4 linked regions of the Homo sapiens genome follow. The protein of the gene in region 1 interacts with the protein of each later gene in a pairwise test. Each region holds a gene or a part of one and is shown in the gene's direction. Other genes may lie near its edges.

Region 1 (3,384 bases):
TAATTTTTGTATTTTTAGTAGAGATGGGGTTTCACCATGTTGGCAAGGCTGGTCTTGAACTCCTGGTCTCAGGTGATCCGTCCACCTTGGCCTCCCAAAGTGCTGGGATTACAGGCATGAGCCACAGTGCCCGGCCTGAGGCCCAGCGTTTTGTAGGTGTACTGGGGAGGGCACCCAGCCTGGGAGTGTCAAGTCTCCTGTGACTGTGCCGGAGTATCTTGAGAGGCTGCCACAGGGCTGGTGAACCAGGAAAGCCCTGAGTGTCTGAACCTGATTGGAGAGAACTGAATAATCCTGACCTTTTGATCCACCCACCCCGGCCTCCCAAAGCTCTGGGATTACAGGCGTGAGCCACCACGTCTGGCCATAAACAGGAATTTTTAATATTCATATCATAGTCATAAACGTTCATCCCTTCCATCCTCATTTTTTTTTATTGTGCCATCTTTGAGAACAGAAAGTTTTGTTTAGCGCCTTGCAAGGTATCTGACAACACAGGAAATGATAATCACTGCGCTAATGATAATAGCAAACGCTTCGACTGGCCCAGCTCTAAGCCCTCTAAGTTTATTAACTCAAAGCTCACAGTTCTCGGCAGGACCACCCTGTCTCCTCCCCAGTCCCTGGGGTGAGTGGGTGGGTTTGCAGGACCCGCTAAGTGCCATCCTCCCCTCCTCTCTCAGGGCTCCCGGAGCGTGTGGAGCTGGCACCCCTGCCTCCTTGGCAGCCGGTGGGCCAGAACTTCACCCTGCGCTGCCAAGTGGAGGATGGGTCGCCCCGGACCAGCCTCACGGTGGTGCTGCTTCGCTGGGAGGAGGAGCTGAGCCGGCAGCCCGCAGTGGAGGAGCCAGCGGAGGTCACTGCCACTGTGCTGGCCAGCAGAGACGACCACGGAGCCCCTTTCTCATGCCGCACAGAACTGGACATGCAGCCCCAGGGGCTGGGACTGTTCGTGAACACCTCAGCCCCCCGCCAGCTCCGAACCTTTGGTGAGAGAAGGGGCTTCAGACGGTGGGTGACGAGCTGAGCCAGGGTAGACGGTGCCCTGACCTTGGGGTTCCTGAGAGTGGGGTACCCCGGACCTCACAGGCTTCTGGGAAGGAAAGCCCCCGGCCACTGGGCAAGGTGGCCCCGGAAGGGAGGCCCGAGCCGTGGGATCTTTGAAGAAGGCCGTTTTCATGGCCCTGTGTGTGTGTCCTGTGAAGAAGGGTGACCCAGTCAGCAAGATATCCTGACTGGGGGGGATGAGGGTGTCCTGGGGAAGGCACAGTCCTGGGGGTTGTACTATGCCCACCTTTCTCCCCAGTCCTGCCCGTGACCCCCCCGCGCCTCGTGGCCCCCCGGTTCTTGGAGGTGGAAACGTCGTGGCCGGTGGACTGCACCCTAGACGGGCTTTTTCCAGCCTCAGAGGCCCAGGTCTACCTGGCGCTGGGGGACCAGATGCTGAATGCGACAGTCATGAACCACGGGGACACGCTAACGGCCACAGCCACAGCCACGGCGCGCGCGGATCAGGAGGGTGCCCGGGAGATCGTCTGCAACGTGACCCTAGGGGGCGAGAGACGGGAGGCCCGGGAGAACTTGACGGTCTTTAGTAAGAGGAGGCGTGGGAAGGGGGCGCGGCCTCAGCAGTCTGGGGGCGTGGCAGAGGGGGCGGAGACTAGCCGAAAAGGTGGGGCCTGGCTTGCCCCAATAGCAGTTGCAACGTGGGTTGGGCCTGAGTGCCCGAAGCTGGACACAGCGCGGAAAGAGGGCGAGGCTTGAACGGCCGAAAGCGTGGCCCGGATATCCCGAGAGGAAAGGGGAGGGCGGAGGGAGCGGCTTGACCCACAGGAAGGTCCTGTTCATTAAGCTCCTGGGCAATGCCCCGCCTTTAGGCTTCCTAGGACCCATTGTGAACCTCAGCGAGCCCACCGCCCATGAGGGGTCCACAGTGACCGTGAGTTGCATGGCTGGGGCTCGAGTCCAGGTCACGCTGGACGGAGTTCCGGCCGCGGCCCCGGGGCAGCCAGCTCAACTTCAGCTAAATGCTACCGAGAGTGACGACGGACGCAGCTTCTTCTGCAGTGCCACTCTCGAGGTGGACGGCGAGTTCTTGCACAGGAACAGTAGCGTCCAGCTGCGAGTCCTGTGTGAGTCGGTCACCCTGACCTTTAATCCCTCCACCCCTGCCCTGGAAAGATTAGACGCTCCTCTGCACCACTGTGCCTCGGGTGTGTTGGGTGTCTGATCACACATGGTGGTTCCACAGATGGTCCCAAAATTGACCGAGCCACATGCCCCCAGCACTTGAAATGGAAAGATAAAACGAGACACGTCCTGCAGTGCCAAGCCAGGGGCAACCCGTACCCCGAGCTGCGGTGTTTGAAGGAAGGCTCCAGCCGGGAGGTGCCGGTGGGGATCCCGTTCTTCGTCAACGTAACACATAATGGTACTTATCAGTGCCAAGCGTCCAGCTCACGAGGCAAATACACCCTGGTCGTGGTGATGGACATTGAGGGTGAGCTAACACGGGGCTGCGGGTCTGGACCGGTAAGCCGGGGGGCGGGGGGGTTGGAGACAGAAGGGACGCATATTGACTTAGCGCTTTCTCTGCACAGCTGGGAGCTCCCACTTTGTCCCCGTCTTCGTGGCGGTGTTACTGACCCTGGGCGTGGTGACTATCGTACTGGCCTTAATGTACGTCTTCAGGGAGCACCAACGGAGCGGCAGTTACCATGTTAGGGAGGAGAGCACCTATCTGCCCCTCACGTCTATGCAGCCGACAGAAGCAATGGGGGAAGAACCGTCCAGAGCTGAGTGACGCTGGGATCCGGGATCAAAGTTGGCGGGGGCTTGGCTGTGCCCTCAGATTCCGCACCAATAAAGCCTTCAAACTCCCTAATCTGTGGTTTGATTCCACCCGCGCTGCAAGTCTCTCCCACCCAGGTGCACATCCACTGAGTAGCGTCGCTGCGACGGAAGGGGGCGGGGCCTGTGGCGCGCAGACGCAGCTTGAACTCTTGAGAGGTGGGCTGGGGCTTAGCCAACGGGGCAAGGGGGGCGGGAAGGAGGTGGGGTTTCTCCCAGCCAATCGACGGGCGCGCCCTCGTTGCCGCTCTATGCCGCTCCGCCCCGGCTCGCTGGTCCCAGAAGGCGCCGGGTTTCCCAAGATGGCGGCGGACGTGTCCGTTACTCACCGGCCCCCGCTGAGCCCTAAGTCTGGGGCCGAAGTCGAAGCCGGCGATGCCGCGGAGCGCCGGGCGCCGGAAGAAGAGCTGCCGCCTCTAGATCCAGAAGAGATCCGGAAACGCCTGGAACACACCGAGCGCCAGTTCCGTAACCGCCGCAAGATACTGATCCGGGGCCTCCCGGGGGACGTGACCAACCAGGTATTGGGGGGGG
Region 2 (6,914 bases), on another chromosome or scaffold:
TTTGGGAGGCTGAGGAGGGCAGATCACTTGAGGCTAGAAGTTCGGGACCAGCCTGGCCAACATGCTGAAACCCTGTCTCTACTAAAACTACAAAAATTAGCTGGGCGTAGTGGCGAGCACCTGTAGTTCCAGCTACTCGGGAGGCTGAGGCAGGAGAATCGCTTGAACCTGGGAGGCAGAGGTTGCAGTGAACCGAGATTGCACCACTGCACTATAGCCTGGGTGACAGCGACATTCCGTCTCAAAAAAAGAGAACAAAACAAAACAAAACAAAACAACTGGGGACTTGGCCAAGCCCCTGGAACTCTGGGGACAGGGGTCTGAAAAGTCCTAGCTCCCACCTGTTATGATCAGGATCCGAACTGCGCAGCAGCTGCTTTGCGTACGGAACTTTGCTCCCTCCTCTTGTTATTAAACTTTTTGGCTCACAAAGCATTTTTACTTCCTTCTCTCATTTCATGTGTATCTCAGACTGGGGAGTGGGCCCCAGTGTTCTCATTGTACAAAGGAGGAAGTTGGGGCTCAGAGATGGAATTGGCTTCTCCAAGGTCACAGGGCTGGTAGGATGGCTTATGGATACACAGCTTCCCAGCTTTTGTCCTGAGCTTTTTGGCTCATGAAGCATTTTCACATCCCCATCTCATTTCACGTCTGTTTTTGTTTTTGATCCTGGAGGGGGTGCAACATCCTCATTTTTACAAAGGAGGAAGCTGTGGCTCAGAGATGGTTCCTGGGCTGGAAAGATGGTTTATGGGGTGGGCAGAGATGGGTGAGCTGATCTGGTGGTTTTTATCCTTGATAGAAACCAGCAGGTGTGGCCAGGCGCAGTGGCTCACGCCTGCAATCCCAGCACTTTGGGAGGCCGAGGCGGGCAGATCATCTGAGGCTGGAAGTTTGAGACCAGCCTGGCCAACATGCTGAAACCCTGTCTCTACTAAAACTACAAAAATTAGCTGGGCGTAGTGGTGTGCGCCTGTACTCCCAGCTACTCGGGAGGTTAAGCCATGAGAATTGCTTGAACCCGGGAAGTGGAGACTGCAGTGAGCAGAGATCGTGTTGTCTCAAAACAAAAAACAAACAACAAAAACAACAAAAAACAACAACAAAAAACAAAAAAAAGCACGTGATCCAATTCTGTCAGCACAAAATCACACAGTGCATGTTATAAAGAAGAAAAAGAAAATAAATGAGTGCCAACCCTGTACTCTCTGACCCCAAAACCAAGGTGATGAATGGCAGATGTCTTATAAGGTGTTCCTGTAAAAGATCTTCGGGCTTTGGGAAGAGGGCCAGATGCAGGCCTAGAGGTAAATTTCCTTGTTTTCCTCTGCCTTAGGGCTATGGGAGCTGGAGCGGAGAGGAGAGAAGCACCTTGCCTTTGCTGGTGTTTTTCCCGCAGCAGGTGGGTGGGACTGAGCCAACGGTCTCTTGGCATCAACAAAGCATCAACAAATCTCTCTCCAGCTCCACTTGTGCTGAGCTACTGGCTGATCCCCAAGGACATCCTTCTGGCCTCTCCTTCACACCTGGGTCCCCTAGCCCTGCGTGAGCTCTGTGCTTCTTCCCCTGCCCTGTGTCTGCTCTATGCCTGGAGCCTCTGTACCTGCCCTCTCCTCAACCCCCAACCCCTCCCTGCTCTCAGCTCCCGATACGCGTGGCTATGCCTGGGAGGGAAGGACAGCTTCTTAGGGCCACAGGTGGACTGTTGTAGGGCTTGCATGCTCCCCTCCCCCATGCCTGCTTCTCCAAGTGGCACTTGGCTGTGTCCCAGGAAAGCAAGGGCAGGAAGTGGCAGGGCGGGGGCCGGGGGCCGGGGGGGCAGGAGGCGGGCGGGGGGTTGGGGGGGGCAGGTTCTGGCCATCTGGCCAAGTCACGTGTCTACTCAGAAAGCTTGTTAAAGGCTACCTGGCTGGGACCACAGGTAAGAGGCACCTGGGGAAGGAGGCACCCATGCTGGAGTGCCCACCCGTCCTGGGCAAGGCCCTGGCCTTCTCTGGGCTTCAGTGTACTCCTTTGAGCCAAGGCAATAAAAGTCCCTGCCCTGCTGACTGGCAGGAGGCTGTGATGAGGTCATCTCCAGGAAAGCACTTATCGCCAATCATGATGTTACTTATCTCTGGTGTTATTCAGCCCATAGGCTCTGTGTGTAGAGGGAGCCTTGTAAAGAAAGCCCCAGGGAGGCGTGGTCTGGGCAGAAACCATCTCTGTTTGCTTTGGTGTGTGTGCCTATGATGGGGGTCAAGGTATAGGAGTGTGATTTGAAACTGGAGAATGCTTCGTTCTTTCCATCATCAAACATGTCTTTTTTTTTCTTTTTTTTTAGATGGAGTCTCGCTCTATCACCCAGGCTGGAGTGCAATGGCGCGATCTTGGCTCACCGCAACCTCCATCTCCCAGGTTAAAGCGATTCTCCTGCCTCAGTCTCCTGAGTAGCTGTGATTACAGGCGTGCGCCATCACACCCAGCTAATTTTTGTATTTTTTAGTAGAGATGGGGTTTCACCATGTTGGCCTAACTCCTGACCTCGTGATCTGCCCATCTTGGCCTCCGAAAGTACTGGGATTACAGGTGTGAGCCACTGCACCCGGCCCAAACATTTCTTTTTCTTTTCTTTTGAGACAGAGTCTTGCTCTGTTGCCCGTGGCTGGAGTGAAATGGTGCGATTATAGTTCACTGCAGCCTCAAACTCCTGGCCTTAAGCGATCCTCCCATCCTGGCCTCCCAAAGTGCTGGGATTATAGGCATGAGCCGCAGCAACCACTCCTCACATTTCTTGAGCATCTGTGATGTATCAAGCCAGATGCTGGGCACTGAGGTTGCAGAAGGCATTGTTCCTGTCTTCTAGGAGCCCCAGGCTAGCAGGGAAGACGGATGTGTATAGAGTTAACCACAATACCAGGCCTCAACTTCCCGTCTGTAACACAGGTGGACCATGCTAGATTGTCCCAGCCTGCCCTGTGCTTCATTAGCCGGTCAACAGATCCATCTCAAATACCTCCCATGGGTACTCACTGATTGCTTTAACCCAAACCATGGCACTCTTGAAGACTTTCCCTCAGGAAGCTCAAGGACTATGCATCCTTCTGGGTCAGAACTGGACACACAGCCACCAGTGCTGGACAATGGCGGCGGCTCAGGGACACACTGGAGCCCTGGCCCCTGCAGAGCTCCCAGCATGGTTGGGAAGAGAGATGCAAAATGACCACACGGCGGGTGAGGAGGAGCTCCCTCGGTGCGGCTGGGATGAGCCCTAGACACTCTCAATCACCCCCACGATGACCCCTTCCCAGAGGTCCCCTCAGTCATCTGCCCTGAACCAAGCTCTTCCTGATCCTAGACCCTCCACCCTCCCTCTATCTTCCAGGGCTTGGTGACATTCCAGGCAGAAATTTCTGACCCTTTTACTTTGGTCCCTCCCTCCCCAGCCCAGTCTCTGGTCAAACTGGATTCCTGGCTGTTCCCAGAACGAGCTGCCTTTCCCCACCTTGCCACCTCTGCCCTTGTTCTCTCTGCCTGAATGTCCTCCTTCACTAGCCTCGCTGCCTTGCACATCTCTCCTGAGGGCTGTCATCCCAGAATGAGCTGCATTTGTCCAGCCTGGCCCACCGTCTACCAGAACGTCCTCCTTCAGCCTGTCCCACTGCCTTGCAAAACTTTTCTGGGGGACCTGTTCACGATGCCTTCTGTAGCATACTCCAAGAATCCGGCGCCCCCTGGAGTTGTGCCACACAGCACCCCTTTGCAGTCAAGCTCCCTCAGCACCACCACCTCCACCCTGGAAGAGTTCCCCTTCCCTTTGAAATCTCATGGGACTTTGCACCCACTCTGGCTTTATTGGAAGGCTTTGTATGTCTCCACAGGGTAAACACCCATTTACTGGGGTGATGATGTCTCCAGGATCTAGTTCATGTTTGTCGTTGGTGACTGGCCCCACCCAGTTCTGGGCAAGCAGGCTGGATCCCGGCAGGAACAGAGCCCACCAGCCTAAACTTCCATGGAGGTGGAGAGGGGACAGGCTTCTGTCTCTTTTTGGCTGAAGGTGCATCATGTCCAAGGCCCCTCTTCTAGCCAAGCAGAGAAGCTGGGTGATAAGGATGGGTGAGAGTGGGTGATGTACCCCGGAGTCCTGGCCTCCCGGCTCCTCACTCCCCTACACGTAACTTTATCCGGCCAATGCCGCAAAGACTGCTGGTGAGGCCAGATGCATGAGTGATCATACTCACAACAGTCGTGAAACTGCCAGTGATGAAACTGGTAAGGACAAGAAATGACAATAATCAAGGTGGGGTTTCTCGTGGACGTTTCCAAGACTTCATTCTCAAATTCTCTCCCTCAGGGTCCCCACCCTGTCCTCCCACCTAAGCCTGGAATGAGGGGGCACTGGCCTGTGGGGACCCTGGTCTTCAGGCTCCCAAACCTGGCTGGGTCTGGTTGCCCCCTGGCCTTAACCTGTGAACATCCAGCTGTCCCTGGGCTGTGATTCAGTGTCTGTCTCCCGGGTGACCTCAGCATGGGCTTTGAGGAAGGGGAGAGAGTAGTTTCTTCTGAGACTGGATAGTGACTCAGGGACCCGGGGCTGGGGCCTCAAAAGTGCCTTTGTTGGCCTGGGCTCAGGAATCCAGAGAAACTGGTCAGGAGGAGGCCCCAGTGACAAAAACCCCTCCCTCTGCCCCCGCCCCTCTGCCAGAGCCATATAACTGCTCAACCTGTCCCCGAGAGAGAGTGCCCTGGCAGCTGTCGGCTGGAAGGAACTGGTCTGCTCACACTTGCTGGCTTGCGCATCAGGACTGGCTTTATCTCCTGACTCACGGTGCAAAGGTGCACTCTGCGAACGTTAAGTCCGTCCCCAGCGCTTGGAATCCTACGGCCCCCACAGCCGGATCCCCTCAGCCTTCCAGGTCCTCAACTCCCGTGGACGCTGAACAATGGCCTCCATGGGGCTACAGGTAATGGGCATCGCGCTGGCCGTCCTGGGCTGGCTGGCCGTCATGCTGTGCTGCGCGCTGCCCATGTGGCGCGTGACGGCCTTCATCGGCAGCAACATTGTCACCTCGCAGACCATCTGGGAGGGCCTATGGATGAACTGCGTGGTGCAGAGCACCGGCCAGATGCAGTGCAAGGTGTACGACTCGCTGCTGGCACTGCCGCAGGACCTGCAGGCGGCCCGCGCCCTCGTCATCATCAGCATCATCGTGGCTGCTCTGGGCGTGCTGCTGTCCGTGGTGGGGGGCAAGTGTACCAACTGCCTGGAGGATGAAAGCGCCAAGGCCAAGACCATGATCGTGGCGGGCGTGGTGTTCCTGTTGGCCGGCCTTATGGTGATAGTGCCGGTGTCCTGGACGGCCCACAACATCATCCAAGACTTCTACAATCCGCTGGTGGCCTCCGGGCAGAAGCGGGAGATGGGTGCCTCGCTCTACGTCGGCTGGGCCGCCTCCGGCCTGCTGCTCCTTGGCGGGGGGCTGCTTTGCTGCAACTGTCCACCCCGCACAGACAAGCCTTACTCCGCCAAGTATTCTGCTGCCCGCTCTGCTGCTGCCAGCAACTACGTGTAAGGTGCCACGGCTCCACTCTGTTCCTCTCTGCTTTGTTCTTCCCTGGACTGAGCTCAGCGCAGGCTGTGACCCCAGGAGGGCCCTGCCACGGGCCACTGGCTGCTGGGGACTGGGGACTGGGCAGAGACTGAGCCAGGCAGGAAGGCAGCAGCCTTCAGCCTCTCTGGCCCACTCGGACAACTTCCCAAGGCCGCCTCCTGCTAGCAAGAACAGAGTCCACCCTCCTCTGGATATTGGGGAGGGACGGAAGTGACAGGGTGTGGTGGTGGAGTGGGGAGCTGGCTTCTGCTGGCCAGGATAGCTTAACCCTGACTTTGGGATCTGCCTGCATCGGCGTTGGCCACTGTCCCCATTTACATTTTCCCCACTCTGTCTGCCTGCATCTCCTCTGTTCCGGGTAGGCCTTGATATCACCTCTGGGACTGTGCCTTGCTCACCGAAACCCGCGCCCAGGAGTATGGCTGAGGCCTTGCCCACCCACCTGCCTGGGAAGTGCAGAGTGGATGGACGGGTTTAGAGGGGAGGGGCGAAGGTGCTGTAAACAGGTTTGGGCAGTGGTGGGGGAGGGGGCCAGAGAGGCGGCTCAGGTTGCCCAGCTCTGTGGCCTCAGGACTCTCTGCCTCACCCGCTTCAGCCCAGGGCCCCTGGAGACTGATCCCCTCTGAGTCCTCTGCCCCTTCCAAGGACACTAATGAGCCTGGGAGGGTGGCAGGGAGGAGGGGACAGCTTCACCCTTGGAAGTCCTGGGGTTTTTCCTCTTCCTTCTTTGTGGTTTCTGTTTTGTAATTTAAGAAGAGCTATTCATCACTGTAATTATTATTATTTTCTACAATAAATGGGACCTGTGCACAGGAGGAAATTTTATTGTCTCTGATTTCAACTGTGGAGGTGGGTGGGGAAGGGCTGGAGGCCTGGGTGCGGGGGTGGGGGGGGTCAGTCAGGGGCAGGACCACTGTGTTTTGGCCGGGACATAAACACTTAAAAAAAAAAAAAAAAAACGAGATCCAGGGAATTGTGAAAAATTGGAGCTGGGCCGGGTGCGGTAGTGAGCACCTGCAATCCCAGCACTTTAAAAGGTCGAGGTGGGAGGATCGCTCGAGGCAGGAGTTTGAGACCAGCCTGGGGAACATAGTGGCACCATCTCTACAAAAAGTTAAAAAAATTAGCTGGGTGTGGTGGCTCATGCCTGTAATCCCTGTACTTGGGGAGGTCGAGGTAGGCGAATTGCTTGAGCCCAGGAGTTTGAGGCTGCAGTGAGCTTTGATCGCACCACTGCACTCCAGCCTGGGTGACAGGGCGAGACCTTATCTCTTAACGAAAAAAAAAAAAAAATCGAAACGGGCCTCCAAGGTATCACCT
Region 3 (6,455 bases), on another chromosome or scaffold:
ACTTCAAACCTGTGTTCCTACCATTCCTTAATAGGATCTAACACTCTGTGTACATTATAATCTCCAAATCGGAGAAAAGTGCATATAAGAAGTTAGCATGTGTGCATACATGCATATCTATATACATAAGTAGGAAAAGACGGGAAAGTTCTAATCACAGAAAAAAAATCACAAACAATTCTGTGCTGAAGAATGCGTCCCTGCTTTCCTCCTCTCTGCCTCTGGTCTCCTGCCCACACATACTGGGGACCATTTGGAGTGTCCCCATGCTGACCGGTTGCCGTGGGTGTGTGCTGGTGGGGGGTAGGAGCATAGCAGGTGGAGTTTCATTAGAATTAGTAGAACTCAGGCATTTGTGAAGTTTCCGTTTCCCTGGTTAGGGAAGCTAGAGGCCGTGGGGCACTGGCATTTGAGAAGCTGGAGGCTGCAGCTTCCATCCTGCCTGAGCTGCTTGCTGGGCAGAAGCCAGGCTGAGCGTGTGAGCTTCATTTATTTCTCTCTGCAAGGGGCTGCTGAACCATGATGGGGGCACAAAGTGGGCGAAGGGCGGGAAGATAAGTGGGGTACACCCAGGAAGGTGGGGACTGTCCAGGCTTCAGAGTCACAGATGTGGGTTTGACCTTTGACTCTGCCAGTCCTTTCTTTTGTGTCAGTGGCAGGGCCTTGGATTCTTCCTTGTGAAACTGGAGCAGTCATTTTAGGCAGAGCTCTTTCCAGTGTAAGGGACAGAGACCCCTTGGAGCCAGCCAAAGTTGAAAGAGGCGTTCATCACATACAGAGACACGTCGGAGTACCCTGAGGACAGGAACCTGTGTAGAGCTGGCCTCACAGGGGACTCGACTAGAAGGAGGAGAGTGTGGAGGCTTCTCTTGTGGCCTCTCTGGAGTGCTCCCTCCACCCCCAGGCCTCTCTCCCACCTGGCTTCCCTGGTGACTACAACTGTGTGATTGTCCAACTTCAGTGTCCATTCATGTCTCTTAGATTCTTGAAGTAGAGGCCAGTTGGCCCAGCTTCTCCTTTAGGCAAGCCCACATTTCAGAGGTCCTAGCAGATGTGCTTGAGCCAGCCCTGGCCCAGGAGGCCGCCCGGTGCAGCCCCTGGGCCCAGAGCCATGGTGAGGCGATCCTTAGCCCAGAGGGAGGCGGGCATGGACAGTGCTCTGTGGTGGCCTTTCCACCCTCCAAAAGTGATTGCTTCTTGATTTCTCTTTCCCTGAGTCTGCCTCCCAACTTCCCAGACTTTAAGCTGAAACCTTCTCCTATTTCATTGAAAAAAACAGAAGCCTTTAGTCCCCCAACCCTCACAGTACGGAGCCACCCCTCGCCCCCAGTGCCATCTTCCTACCTCCTCTTGTTGAGTTCAAAGGGTCCTTTGCCTCTCGAAGGCAGGTCTGTCCATTCAGCTTCTTGTCTTGCTCCTACAGAGACCTCTTCTTTTTTCAGTGTCAGGGTTTTCTCCCATTCTATTAGACCCCTCAAACATCATTCTCTAGTTTCGCTTATTATTTAAAGAAAAAGAAAGAAAAACCATTTTGGCCACACACATTCTTCCCACAAAACTTCAAAGCAGTTTTCTGCCCTGGTGCTGTTTGGCGTGCTGGCATGCAGACCCGTCATCACAAGCTACCGGAAGACAGAGGGGCTTGCAGCAGAGTGTCAGCCAGCTCTGCACTGAGCACGTGCCACTGACAGTTTTTCCCTGGCCAAATATTCCCGAGGAAGGAAGCAGTGCGTTCGCTTATGTTCTGGCACAAATGCCTCTGTCTTCTCACAGTTGACCTTCTTGACTGTCTTGGTCCCCACGACAGCACGTTCTCTTTTGCCTCACTCCTTTTCTCTGAGTACCCCATGCTTGCTCTTCCCCTTCCTGCCCTGTAGCTGTCAGGGTGAAAGGACTCAGTCCTGGGCCCTTTCTCTGCCTGCCTTGGACATGATCTCTCTTAATCCAATAGTTGATGACTTCCAAATACAGATCTTCAGCCCAGACCCAGCTCCTGACTCATTTATCCAATTGCCTCCTTGATATTATTTCCATGACGATGTCTAAGAAGCATCCTCACATGCAGAGCACTCAATGCGCTTCTTGAGTCCGCCCTTCCCCAGTGCCCATGCCCTCCCTGGCTCAGGCCACTCTGCCCTCTGCCTGGTGCTCTTCCCAGCTTTTTTCCTGGTTGGTCCCTTTTCACCATAGGGTCCCCTCCCCAGTCGTTATCTCAGAGATGCTTTCCCTTGCTGCCCCAGCTCACAGGTGAGTGAGAGCAGAGACGCTGCTCCTCCTGAAGCCTGATGAAGTACCCAGGATTCAGACGGGCATGTTTGCCCTTTAAATCCTGACCAGACCGGCCCTGGCCCCAGCAGCTTGAGGCTTTTTTCCATGCCTCCAGGAACTTCTGAATGCATCTTACAAATGTTGAGAACTGGTCATTGTGGAGGCTGGGGCCTTTGAATGTCAACTACACTTGTGTGGGTGGATGCAGACAGCAGCATGAAGTGCAGGAGGGAAGTCAGGCCCAGCACTGCTAGCCAGCCAGCCAGGGCATGGCTAGCCCCAGGCCTGGGGTGCCACCTGCCAGTCCTGTGAGGAATTTGGGAGAGACAGCAGCGGGCTCCGACAGGCCATTAGCTCCACAAGGAAATGGCCACGAATCAGAGTGCTGCTAATGGCTTGTTTCTTTTTAAACAATTTTTTTGAGGCCGTGTCGGAGAGAATAGGCTGCCATTTGCAGCTTTGAACAGGAATGCTGTCCATTGCTCTGTTAGAAGCCATGGGGTATTTACAAACTGGGTGACTGTTGGCAAGACATTTTTCCCCTTTGCTCCTTGGTTTCCTCCCTTCCGTGATGGGGATAATAAAGCCTGTCTGTCTGACTCACAGGGCCGTTGGGGTGTGTTCCAGGTGTTGGTATGTCAGCTAGCACGAATTCGCCGCCCGCTCTGTGCCAAGCCCTGAGTTATACAGCTTCCTACTCCATCCTCACCACGGTCCCGCGAAGGTGGGCATCACTCAAGGCTGCAGTCAGGCTTAGAGGAGCTCAGTGCACCCGTCCCTGGGCCGCCCACGGGTATGGGTGGAGATGTCTCAGCCCACCTGTACCGCGTCCCTGCGGGCGGGCAGAGCTCTGGGTACAGATGCATTTGTTTTCCAGATTCTCACAGTCATCCTTTAAGACAAGCTGTTCTCATTGTTCAGATGATGGCATGGAGGCCTAGTGGAGTTAAGTGACTTGCTCAAAGCCATTTAGCCTGTAAGTGATTGGTCCTGGATTTGAAGGCAAGTCTGCCTGGAAGTCCTTTGGAAGACTTGAAAAGGAGAATTGGTAAAGCCAGGGGTTCCTATACCTTTCAGGCCTTAAGAAAGTAATAGTAGGTGTTTTTTTTTTTCTCTCTGTTCCTTATTTCATGAAGGAAATTATACATTTGCCCAAATGGCGCTTCCCTTAATATTTGCTGAACCTTAATGTTTGCTTTTGATTGGCATTATGCCATCCTAGCACAATAATATTTGTCATCTCATACCTTAGGAAACTCTGCCTGATTTTGAATGATACAAAAAAGGTTTTGGGGTCTAAATGGAGTGAGAGGAATGGTAAGAGATTAAGTATCCCTCATAAAAACAGGATGGTGTCAGTAAGACCTTTCCCAACTCTGAGTTCACATTCTACCACCTCGGTCACTTAGGTGTAAATGTCATCTTCCTCCTCAAGATGATGACAGGCCACCCACTACCCTGGGACAAAACAGGGCAGACAGTATACAGCATAGGTCCCTCTGCTAGAGGAACATTGGTATTCAGTGCTCTTCTGCTTCCAAGAACCCCTCACTCCATGCTACTCTCCGAGAATATTGTAATGGACATCTGCCTTTGATATAGCCCTGATACCCAACCCCACTCCGTCACTGTGTTTGAAAAGTACTCTTCCTGCTGTACAAATTGGAAGGCTAGGCTGTGGGCATATGGGCCGGGGCTTGGCTAGTCACACATGCATGGAAGCTGGTGATGCAGAATGCTGGGGGGTGGCGAGTTCATCTGGAGACTGTGCCAGCAGCCACATCTAGTTTTTGGGGGTGGTCATGGTGGCTCGGCACCTCCTGCTCCAGTGCCCATGTCCAGTGCTGACGGTGGTGATGCAGGCTCTGGCATCCTCACACTGGGAGTGTGAGTTGGGCTCCAGTTATGGCAGCACAGCATAATGTCCTGCCCATTTTCTGAGCCTGGTTCTTTGGCTTTTCTGGGAATCAGTGAGATGCCAAAGGCCTTTAAGTAAACTCGATTTAAATCAGCTGAAGTCTGCTTCATCTGCTTAAAGCTAAGAAGCCGACTTTTATAGAGATGTTCCTCTGTAGTTATCCAAACATTTGTATTCATTCTTCTGGCCCCTGAAAGTTCTACTTCACCTGTTAGGCACCTCCGTGAGCTACAGAATTAACAGGAGAATCCCAGGTTGAGTGGGTGGCAGGACTGTGGGCTCAGCCGTCTCCCTTCATTATTACTGTGACCCGGGTCTCCATCATGCCCCCTAGACGGTGACCTCTGTGGGGACACAACTGAGTCCTTCATCTCTATCCTCAGCTCCTTGAGTAATGCTTGGCACACGGTGGGTGCTTGGGAAGGTTTGGATGAATGGGCCAAGGAACCAACAAAGAGATGAGAGAAGTTGATGCCTGTGGGCTCTCTGCAGCCTTAATGAGGCTGGCCTGGCTTGGGCAGGAAGGGGGCTACGTGCCTGGAGACTGCAGGCTGCCTGCAGTTCCATGCTGGAGATGGGCTGGGGAGATCATGGAACTTAGAGCAGGAAAGCAAGTAGCTAGAGCCACGAAAGGGAGAGCCGCTCCTCTGAGTGGAGGCGGCGTAGTTGGTGCTTCCCAATCCTTTCACCTCATGGCATGTACAGAACACAGTATTATTTGTCTGGTACCCAGGGCTTTGTCCAGCTGGCGCTGGAGCGGAGGCCCCTCTCACAGCACACCGGTGACCCAGTGCCCACTACTTAGAGCGCTGATCCCAAGAGAACTTAGAGCCTGGTGTGGCCTCTGTTCTTAGCCCTTTGTCATGTAAGTTGCAGATATTTTTCCTAGTTGTGTATTTGCCTTTAAGTGATTTATTTTTTCTTCTATTTGGTTTATTCTCTACTATCACAGTTGTTCTCTCTACAGGAGGTTCCAGCCTTGGCAAGAGGAGTGTGGCCCTTCCTGGAATCCCTCTGGACACACCCTCCTAGCATCCTCTAGGAAAGATGCGGCAGCTCAAAGGGAAGCCCAAGAAGGAGACCTCCAAGGACAAGAAGGAGCGGAAGCAAGCCATGCAGGAGGCCCGGCAGCAGATCACTACAGTGGTGCTGCCCACGCTGGCCGTGGTCGTGCTCTTGATCGTGGTGTTTGTGTACGTGGCCACGCGCCCCACCATCACCGAGTGAGCCCCGCAGCCGGCTGCGGACCCCATCGGCAGGGAGAGGAGGCGCGGGAGGGGGACGCAAACAAAAAATGGCTTTCATATTCAGAGATGTTCATGTTGCTGAGCTGTAAGCAGGAGCACCCTGTCTTCTCTGGTCTTTGACTTGATTAAAGTATCTCCGCTTTCTTGGGAGGGAATAGGGGATGTTTTATCAGTGAATGTGCCATACACCTTATGGTCCACTTCATGTGCCTTTCAGACTTCAAAGCGCGCGCGCATGTGTGTGTGTGTGTGTGTGTGTGTGTGTGTGTGTGTGTGCTTCTTTTTCTCTCCTAAAAATCGATAAGTAGCTCCACCTGAAGAGGGATGGAACCTCTGGGTCAGGAAACAGCTGGAATCCACACTCACCTCATTCCCATTGTTTGGATCATGCTTCTTTCCAACACGTGTTCACAATCTCCAAAGGGACTGTATTTCTTCTCTGTGCTTAATGTGATTTGAAATATGTTGAATCAAAGTGAAATATTTATTTTTTGAATAAAGGAGATAATAGCCTTAAACTGGATGCTTATCATGTTTTGCAAGGAGGTGCTGTCTGTGGGTCTCCCCCTGCCCACGGGTCTGCCCCTCTTCCCTCCCCTTCCCTTTCTCCTGTGGCTCTCTCCACCTTCCCCAGCACTCCCTCTGCTCATCATTTCTGAGTAAAATTATGCTTTTTGACCGATAATTTTAAGATGGAGAGGGACAGAAAGGGTATATTAATTGGCTTGCTTTAGAAAGTGAGAGTTCTAATTAGACTGTGACGACAGGTGCTTTTTACACCAGTTAGTTTTTCCTACTTCAACTCGGTATGTTTGTGCAAACAGCAATACAGAGTGATCCTGGAAGTAAAGGTCAGGCTTGGTTTTGTTCTTAGCTGAAAGGATGCAAATTGTTGGCATTCCAGCTGAGTTTTCAATGCAAATTGGCTGGAATGGTTGCCTCATTTTATTCTAACAGCACTGCTCAGGCGGTCCTGGTTCCTGATGGAGCAGCCTCTTTTTGGAAGTCAGATTCATGGTTAC
Region 4 (7,316 bases), on another chromosome or scaffold:
GAAAAAGGAAGTTAGAAAAACAGCCCTAGAGGCCCTACATTCTGAGTAATAGGAGTTCCAGAAAGGAAGTGATTGCTGCACAACATAAATTTGAAAAGAAAGAGAAGTGAGAAAATAGAGGGAAGGAAATCAAAGAAATAATCCAACTTCTGAAAAGTAAAGAATGAGCTTCCAGCGGGAAAGTGCCTGTTGAGTGCAGGCACAGTGGAGGAAATGAAGCTGGGTGTGTTGGAGCTCGCCTGTAGTCCCAGGTACTCGGGAGGCTGAGGGAGAATTGCTTGAGCCCGGGAGGCAGAGGTTGCAGTGAGCCGAGATCGTACCACTGCACTCCAGCCTGGATTACAGAGTGAGATGGTCTCAAAAAAAAAAAAAAAAAAAAAAATTAGTCCCACATAGGGGAATATCAGTGTGAAACTGCAGAACTCTGGGGCCCAAAATCTTAAAAACTTTCCAGGAAGAACAAAATCGGTTACATATAAAGGATCCACAGCGTGGCCGGAGCAGGATTGCTTGAGCCCAGGAGTTGGAAACTTGTCTGAGCAACATAGCGCGACCCTGTGTCTACAAAAAAATAAAAACAAAACAAAAAACAACCAAAGACTTCCGAAACAGAATGGCTTTAGCCTGCTCAACCGCAGTGTGGCAGCTGGCCAACAGCATCTCTTCATGATTCTGAAGGACAACGATCTGCAGCTCAGCCAAGCATCAGCCATCTATGGGGTAGGATGCAAGAATTCAGCAATGTTACCTTCCGGGCAGTCTTTCTCAAGAACTCCTGGAGGATAGGCTCAACACAAGCAAGGGGGGACCAAGAAAGAGGAAGATGTGAAATCCAGGAAATAAGGACCCATGCAGGAGGGGGCGGAGGTGGTGAAGAAAGACCCGGGCATGGTGTGTGTACTGGACCTGTGCAGCCTGTCCAGCGGGGAGCAGCGTGACTTGAGATGTGTTGAGAGCTGGCATTACCAACATCCCTACTGCCATGCTGCTCATTTAGGTACAGAATGCCCCACAAGCTTGGCCCAGATTCTTTTTTTTTTTTTGAGACAGAGTCTCACTCTGTTGCCCAGGCTGGAGTGCAGTGGCATGATCTCGGCTCACTGCAACCTCCACCTCCCGGGTTCAAGCATTCTCCTGCCTCAGCCTCCCGAGTAGCTGGGATTACAGGTGCCCGCCACCACACCCTGCTATTTTTTTGTATTTTTAGTAGAGACGGGGTTTCACCGTGTTAGCCAGGATTGTCTTGATCTCCTGACCTCGTGATCCGCCCACCTCGGCCTCCCAAAGTGCTGAGATTACAGGCTTGAGCCATTGCACCTGACGCTGGCCCAGAATCTTGCCTGCACCTGACTGGTCCCTATCACAGGCTGAGGAAGCCCTGTTCTCGCCCTGCTGCCTGGGTCTGCTGAGGACACATGGCTCACCTGACAGGCCTCACCTTGCTCCTGAGGTCTGAGCACCCTACTCCTCAGGGCACTGTGAGCTCAGAAGCAAGAGACAGAACAGCTCATGCCCCTGACCATTTCCTGCTGAATGCGCATGCCACAGCTGTGCTCAACGTCCTCACAGGGGAGCCCCACCCACAACCATGCCCTCTGCCTGCCCCAGAGGGGCCTCTTGTCAGTGCCCACAGAGGCCGGGCCCAGCCTGTACCCCAGGCGCTCAGCTGAGTTTATCTTCCCGGGAGTCTTCTGGCCTGGCCATGGTGCCTGTTCTGCCCCAGCTGGGGGTGTGCTGCCTCTCTGCACACATAGTACTCAGGGAAACACACCCGGGTGGGATTCATAAAACCCTAAAGGAAAGCAAGGGCGTGATCAACCCAAGTCAAAGTAAAGGTGATCTCTGGGGAGGGGAGGAATCGCTGGGGAGGTCACCAGGGCGCTCCTAGGACTCTCGTAATGTTCTGGTCATAACTGGGGAATGGGCACACCTGGTATTATTGTTGTAATGTGTACACGTGTGTGGTTTTTTTTTTTTTTTTTAAATTGAGTTTTGCTTTATCACCCAGGCTGGAGTGCAGAGGTGTGATCACGACTCACTGCAGCCTCCACCTCCCGGGTTAAAGTGATTCTCATGCTTCAGCCTCCCGAGTAGCTGGGATTAAAGGTGCCCGCCACAACGCCCAGCTAATTTTTGTATTTTTAGTAGAGATGGGGTTTCACCGTGTTGGCCAGGTTGGTCTCCAACTCCTGACCTGAAGTGATCTGCCTGCCTCGGCCTCCCGAAGTGCTAGGATTACAGGCGTGAGCCACTGCAACCAGCCACATGTGTGTCTTATTTTTATTTTATTTTATTTTTTGTTTTGTTTTTTTGAGAAAGAGTCTCACTGTGTCACCCAAGCTGGAGTGCAATGGCGTGATCTTGGCTCACTGAAACCTCCACCTCCCGGTTCAAGCGATTCTCCTGTGTCAGCCTCCTGAGTAGCTGGGATTACAGGCGCCTGCCACCATGCCCAGCTAATTTTTGTATTTTTAGTAGAGACTGGGTTTCACCATGTTGGTTAGGCTGGTGGCGAACTGCTGACCTCAGGTGATCCACCGGCCTCGGCCTCACAAAGTGCTGGGATTACAGGTGTGAGCCACCACGCCCGGCTAAGAAGGGATTTTTTTTTTTTTTTTTTGAGACGGAGTCTCGCTCTGTCACCAAGCTGGAGTGCAGTGGCACCGTCTCAGCTCACTGCAACCTCTGCCTCCTGGGTTCAAGAGATTCTCCTGCCTTAGCCTTCCAAGTAGCTGGGATTACAGGCACACACCACCATGCCCAGCTAATTTTTGTATTTTTAGTAGAGATGGGGTTTCACCATGTTGGCCAGGCTGGTCTCGAACTCCTGACCTAGTGATCCACCCACCTCGGCCTCCCAAAGTGCTGGGATTACAGGCATGAGCCACCGTGCCTGGCCAGAAGGAATTTTAAAAAAGAAAAAAAAAAAAAAAAACAAAGCTGCCAGGTGCGGTGGCTCACGCCTGTAATCCTAGCACTTTAGGAGGCCGAGGCAGTGGATCACTTCAGGTCAGGAGTTCGAGACTAGCCTGGCCAACATGGTGAAACCCCATCTCTACTAAAAATACAAAAATTAGCCGGGCATGGTGGCAGGCGCCTGTAATCCCAGCTACCGGGAGGCTGAGGGAGGAGAGAATCACTTGAACCCAGGAGGCAGAGGTTGCAGTGAGCCGAGATTGTGCCATTGTACTCTAGCCTAGGAGACAAGAGCGAAACTCCGTCTCAAAAAAAAAAAAAAAGAAACCCAGAAGAAAAAGATGAATGAAGAATGGAACCAAGCCTGGGTTATCCTTGTCTTCAGGCCAACACAGTAAAAAATAGATTTATGTATGTTTGTTTTTTAATAGAGGAAGAGGCTCACAAAGGCAAAAATGCCAGGTCCTAGGAAAGCCATACTGCAGCCTGGCTGGTCCCCAAGGAGGCTCCTGGCTTCTGTGTCTGGGTAGAAGTAGCCACAGTTCTCCTTGGACCCTGCAGGATCAGTTTGGGCCAACGTGGCTGGTTCAGGCTGATGGGGCGTTGCCAGGCTGAGTTGTCTGGAGGGAGCTGGGACAGCCTTGAACTGCAGCAAGACAGCCATAGTGCCAAGGGCCTGGGGCTGGACACACCCTGCATGGGAGTGGACCTGGGCAGCTGGAGGCCACCTCTGGGCTGTGATGATGGCAGCCTCCCCTCACTGAGCGCCGAGCATCTGAGGGGTGTCCTGCCTGCATCACCGCGTTGCGGCCTCATCAGTCCCACGACTTTGTGCCCATTTTACAGATGAGGAGATGGAGGCCCAGAGAGCCAGTCAGAAAGTGGCTGGGCCAGGACTAAGAGTGCAGCGCGCTGCCTCCGTGCCCTGCGTCAACAGCTCAAGGAACTGGGGTGCTCCGGAAATGGGGCCAAGGCTGCTGGGCAGCAGGACGCTCAGGGCCTTGGCCTCAGGAGAGGTAATTCCCCACTCGGAGATCGGTCTTGTTGCTGCATTTTATAGATGGGAAAAGTGAGGCTAGAAGAGACGACAAACGACACGCCGTTGGACACACGGCAACGTTTTAGATGTTGGGTCTGGCCGGGCGGCCGTCACCGGTCACCATGGGGAGGAGGAGGAGCCGAGAGACTTGCTCGCGGCCGGGGGGAGGCAGAAGCGCGTCCCGCGGGAGAGGTGGCTTTGAGGAGTGAGCTCCCGGTCCCGCGGGGACGCGAGTGGGCCCAGTGCCCGGGCTGCCAGGCGGGGCGGGGCGGGGCCGGGCGACTGAGAGGGGCGGGGCCTGGCGGCTGGGAGGGGCGGGGCGGATGCGGGGACAGCGGCCTGGCTAACTCCTGCCAGGCAGTGCCCTTCCCGGAGCGTGCCCTCGCCGCTGGTGAGTGAGGACGGGACGCGGAGGGGGCAGCGGGAAGTGGGGGCCCGCATGGCTGCGACTCTTGGCAGCGCCGCGGGACAGAGGGAAACTGAGGCCGGAGCCGCAGACTGGACACCCGAGGGGGCGACCCGGGGCAGCACTTGGGGCTCGGCTACCGGGTCAGGGGGCGGCGGGCAGCAGAGTCTGGGCCTCCGCGGCCGGGGTTCCAGCGCGGGCCGCCTCCGGCTGGGGGTTCGGGAGGGAAAACTTGGACAACCCTGCCACGCCCAGCCCTTGGCCGCGTGGCTTCTCCTGCAGGAAGCGCGGTCCCAGGAGTGGCCGACGCTCCCTCTCCTGCCCATTCCGCGGATGGGCAATCCCAGGCGGAACTCCCTTGAGGGTCTCAGAATATCTGGGAGACCTCGGGCTCTTGATCTCCGAGACACCCCGTTTCGTAGTGGAGAACAGTCCAGATCGGGGAAGTTTATTTTGCCCAAAGCCGGTTAGAGGCCCCCTGGCCCTCGATTCCCAGTGCGGGGCTCAGGTGCGTTGCAGCCTAGACGGGTCTTACTGTGAGCCGAGCAGCCTCTGGGACCTGTCTGCTTCCCCTACCCCTTGCAAAGAAGCCGGAGCCCAGGTAGGAGAAGCGGGGGCTTCCTGCTGTGAACGCGCTGCTGGCCAGGGCAGCTGCCAGAGGCCATGGCCTGGCGTGGGCCTGGAGCCCCTCTGGCCAGCCTGCCAGGGGCCAGGGCTACGGGATACCAGCAGCGTGCCCTGGGCTGGATGGCAGGAGAGACAGGACTTGAGGCTGTCCCAGAATGGGCTCAGGCAGGGCGAGGATATCAGGGGAGGTGGTGTACAGGAAGCAGCCGCCCAGCTTGCCTGGCACACAGCAAGCCCTGCCCATGAAGGCCTACTGCCAGAACAGTGGGCGAGGCCCGGCGTCTCTGTGGAGTCGGTGGGGCCCGGGACAGGGCAGCCTGAGGCAGGTTTCCACTGGCGGTGAAAGGGGCCGTGTGGCAAGGACAGGAGAGCCAGCCTCAGCCCAGCAGGGGAAGGCGGCCCCTGAGTCTCCACCTGGCTGCTGGCAGCCCCACAGGGAGGTTCGGCGAAACTGAGGCTTGCCAAAGAAGCCTTTGTCCAGAGTCACGCAGCTGGCGCGGTGGAGCCAGGGCCAGAACCCGTGCAGGCTGATCCCAGCCTGCCTTCTCCACTGTGCCCCGAGGACCACTTTCTTTCCTGGGAGTGTGTGTGTGCACATGTGCTGTGTCCTGTCGTCTGTACACACTTGTGCCTGGCGTGAGGCAGGATGTCTGGCTGGATCTACCAGAAAGTATTCACAGCGGGTTCTCCAGCTGGGGTGAGGGGCTTGGGCTCGCAGGGAGGGAGCCTACTTTTCACTTTAGCTTGCTTTCTTCCTTTCTTCCGTCCTTCCTTCCTCCCTCCCTCCCCTCCCCTTCCCACCCCTTCTTTCTCTTTCTTCTTTCTCTTTCTTTCTTTCTTTCCTTCCTTCCTTCTTTCCTTTCTCTTTCTCTTTTTTTCTTTCTTCCCCTTCCTTCCTTCCTTTCTTGTTTTTGTTTGTTTGTTTGAGACAGGGTCTCACTCTGGTATGCAGGCTGGAGTGCAGTGATGCAATCATAGCTCACTGCAGTCTCCTGCAGAACTCCTGGGCTCAAGCGATCCTCCCACCTCAGCCTCCCAAAGTGCTGGGATTACAGGCATGAGCCACTGTTCCTGGCTTATTTGTGTTTTCTTTTTTTTTTTTTTTTTTTTTTTTTTGAGACGGAGTCTCGCTCTGTCGCCCAGGCCGGACTGCGGACTGCAGTGGCGCAATCTCGGCTCACTGCAAGCTCCGCTTCCCGGGTTCACGCCATTCTCCTGCCTCAGCCTCCCGAGTAGCTGGGACTACAGGCGCCTGCCACCGCGCCCGGCTAATTTTTTGTATTTTTAGTAGAGACGGGGTTTCACCTTGTTAGCCAGGATGGTCTCGATCTCCTGACCTCATGATCCACCCGCCTCGGCCTCCCAAAGTGCTGGGATTACAGGCGTGAGCCACCGCGCCCGGCTTATTTGTGTTTTCTTTACTTTTGATGGTGCAAACAATGCTTGGATGTGCTCTCTGTTTAAAACGGTAGTCTTTTTTATTTTTTTTTTTAACCACTAGACCACTAGGGAAGTCATTCTTAATTTCTTATTTTTATTTATATATATATTTTTTGAGACGGTGTCTCGCTCCATTGCCCAGGCTGGAGTGCAGTGGCTCCAGCTGGGCTCACTGCAACCTCCGCCTCCAGAGTTGAAGTGATTCTCCTGCCTCAGCCTGGCTAATTTTTATATTTTTAGTAGAGATGGGTTTCACCATGTCGGCCAGGCTGTTTCTTTATTTTTTACTAAAAAAAAGTTTAACCCCCGAACCTCGAAGGAAAGGGAAGTAGTCTTTCTTAACAGAACCAATTCCCCCTGGATACCCCACCCTCACCCTACCCTCTCCCAGGCCACTCGATGGCCAGGTTCGCTGTGGATTTTTCCAGACCTGTGGGCTGTTTCACTGGTTACTTTTGTAATGAAAAATGCACACAAAGGTTACGATGAGGACGATTAGCCATGAATCATTTTTAAAAAGCCTGAAAACAAGTCCCTGGGACAGTGCTGGCTTCGTTGGAGAGACAAGGCTCAGGGGAGTGGGTGCAGCTGGGGGTCGGGGTGGGGATCAGAGAAGGGACACATTCCTTATTGTGTTTCTGGGTCGCCTTCTTTTTTTTTGTTTGCTTTATTTATTTATTTATTTATTTTGAGACAGAGTCTTGCTCTGTTGCCCAGGCTGGAGTGCAGTGGCGTAATCTTGGCTCACTGCAACCTCCTCCTCTCGGGTTCAAGCAATTCTCTTGCCTTAGCCTTCTGAGTAGCTGGGATTACAGACGTGCGCCACCACACCAGGCTAGTTTTTTATTTTTAGTAGAGACGGGGTCTCACCATGTTGGCCAGGCTGGT

The links.
Region 2: the proteins of ICAM3 (region 1) and CLDN4 interact in binary tests that used the Homo sapiens proteins (3 or more experiments, as listed by UniProt).
Region 3: the proteins of ICAM3 (region 1) and SMCO4 interact in binary tests that used the Homo sapiens proteins (3 or more experiments, as listed by UniProt).
Region 4: the proteins of ICAM3 (region 1) and TSPO interact in binary tests that used the Homo sapiens proteins (3 or more experiments, as listed by UniProt).

What each region holds. Positions count from the first base shown.
Region 1 is NC_000019.10:10,333,276-10,336,659, reverse strand, and holds the end of ICAM3 (intercellular adhesion molecule 3 isoform 1 precursor), read left to right. Parts: intron 1-683; coding exon 684-989; exon of another isoform or gene 990-1,306; coding exon 1,307-1,594; intron 1,595-1,839; exon of another isoform or gene 1,840-1,877; coding exon 1,878-2,132; intron 2,133-2,251; coding exon 2,252-2,500; intron 2,501-2,600; coding exon 2,601-2,803; 3' UTR 2,804-2,884; downstream 2,885-3,384. Other genes in the region: RAVER1 (ribonucleoprotein PTB-binding 1), read left to right, coding at 3,153-3,371. UniProt on the Homo sapiens protein: ICAM proteins are ligands for the leukocyte adhesion protein LFA-1 (integrin alpha-L/beta-2). ICAM3 is also a ligand for integrin alpha-D/beta-2. In association with integrin alpha-L/beta-2, contributes to apoptotic neutrophil phagocytosis by macrophages.
Region 2 is NC_000007.14:73,826,277-73,833,190, forward strand, and holds CLDN4 (claudin-4), read left to right. Parts: upstream 1-4,719; 5' UTR 4,720-4,925; coding exon 4,926-5,555; 3' UTR 5,556-6,414; downstream 6,415-6,914. UniProt on the Homo sapiens protein: Can associate with other claudins to regulate tight junction structural and functional strand dynamics.
Region 3 is NC_000011.10:93,477,968-93,484,422, reverse strand, and holds the end of SMCO4 (single-pass membrane and coiled-coil domain-containing protein 4), read left to right. Parts: intron 1-5,138; coding exon of another isoform or gene 5,139-5,233; coding exon 5,234-5,413; coding exon of another isoform or gene 5,414-5,553; 3' UTR 5,554-5,951; downstream 5,952-6,455.
Region 4 is NC_000022.11:43,147,259-43,154,574, forward strand, and holds the start of TSPO (translocator protein), read left to right. Parts: upstream 1-4,300; 5' UTR 4,301-4,346; exon of another isoform or gene 4,347-7,316. UniProt on the Homo sapiens protein: Can bind protoporphyrin IX and may play a role in the transport of porphyrins and heme. Promotes the transport of cholesterol across mitochondrial membranes and may play a role in lipid metabolism, but its precise physiological role is controversial.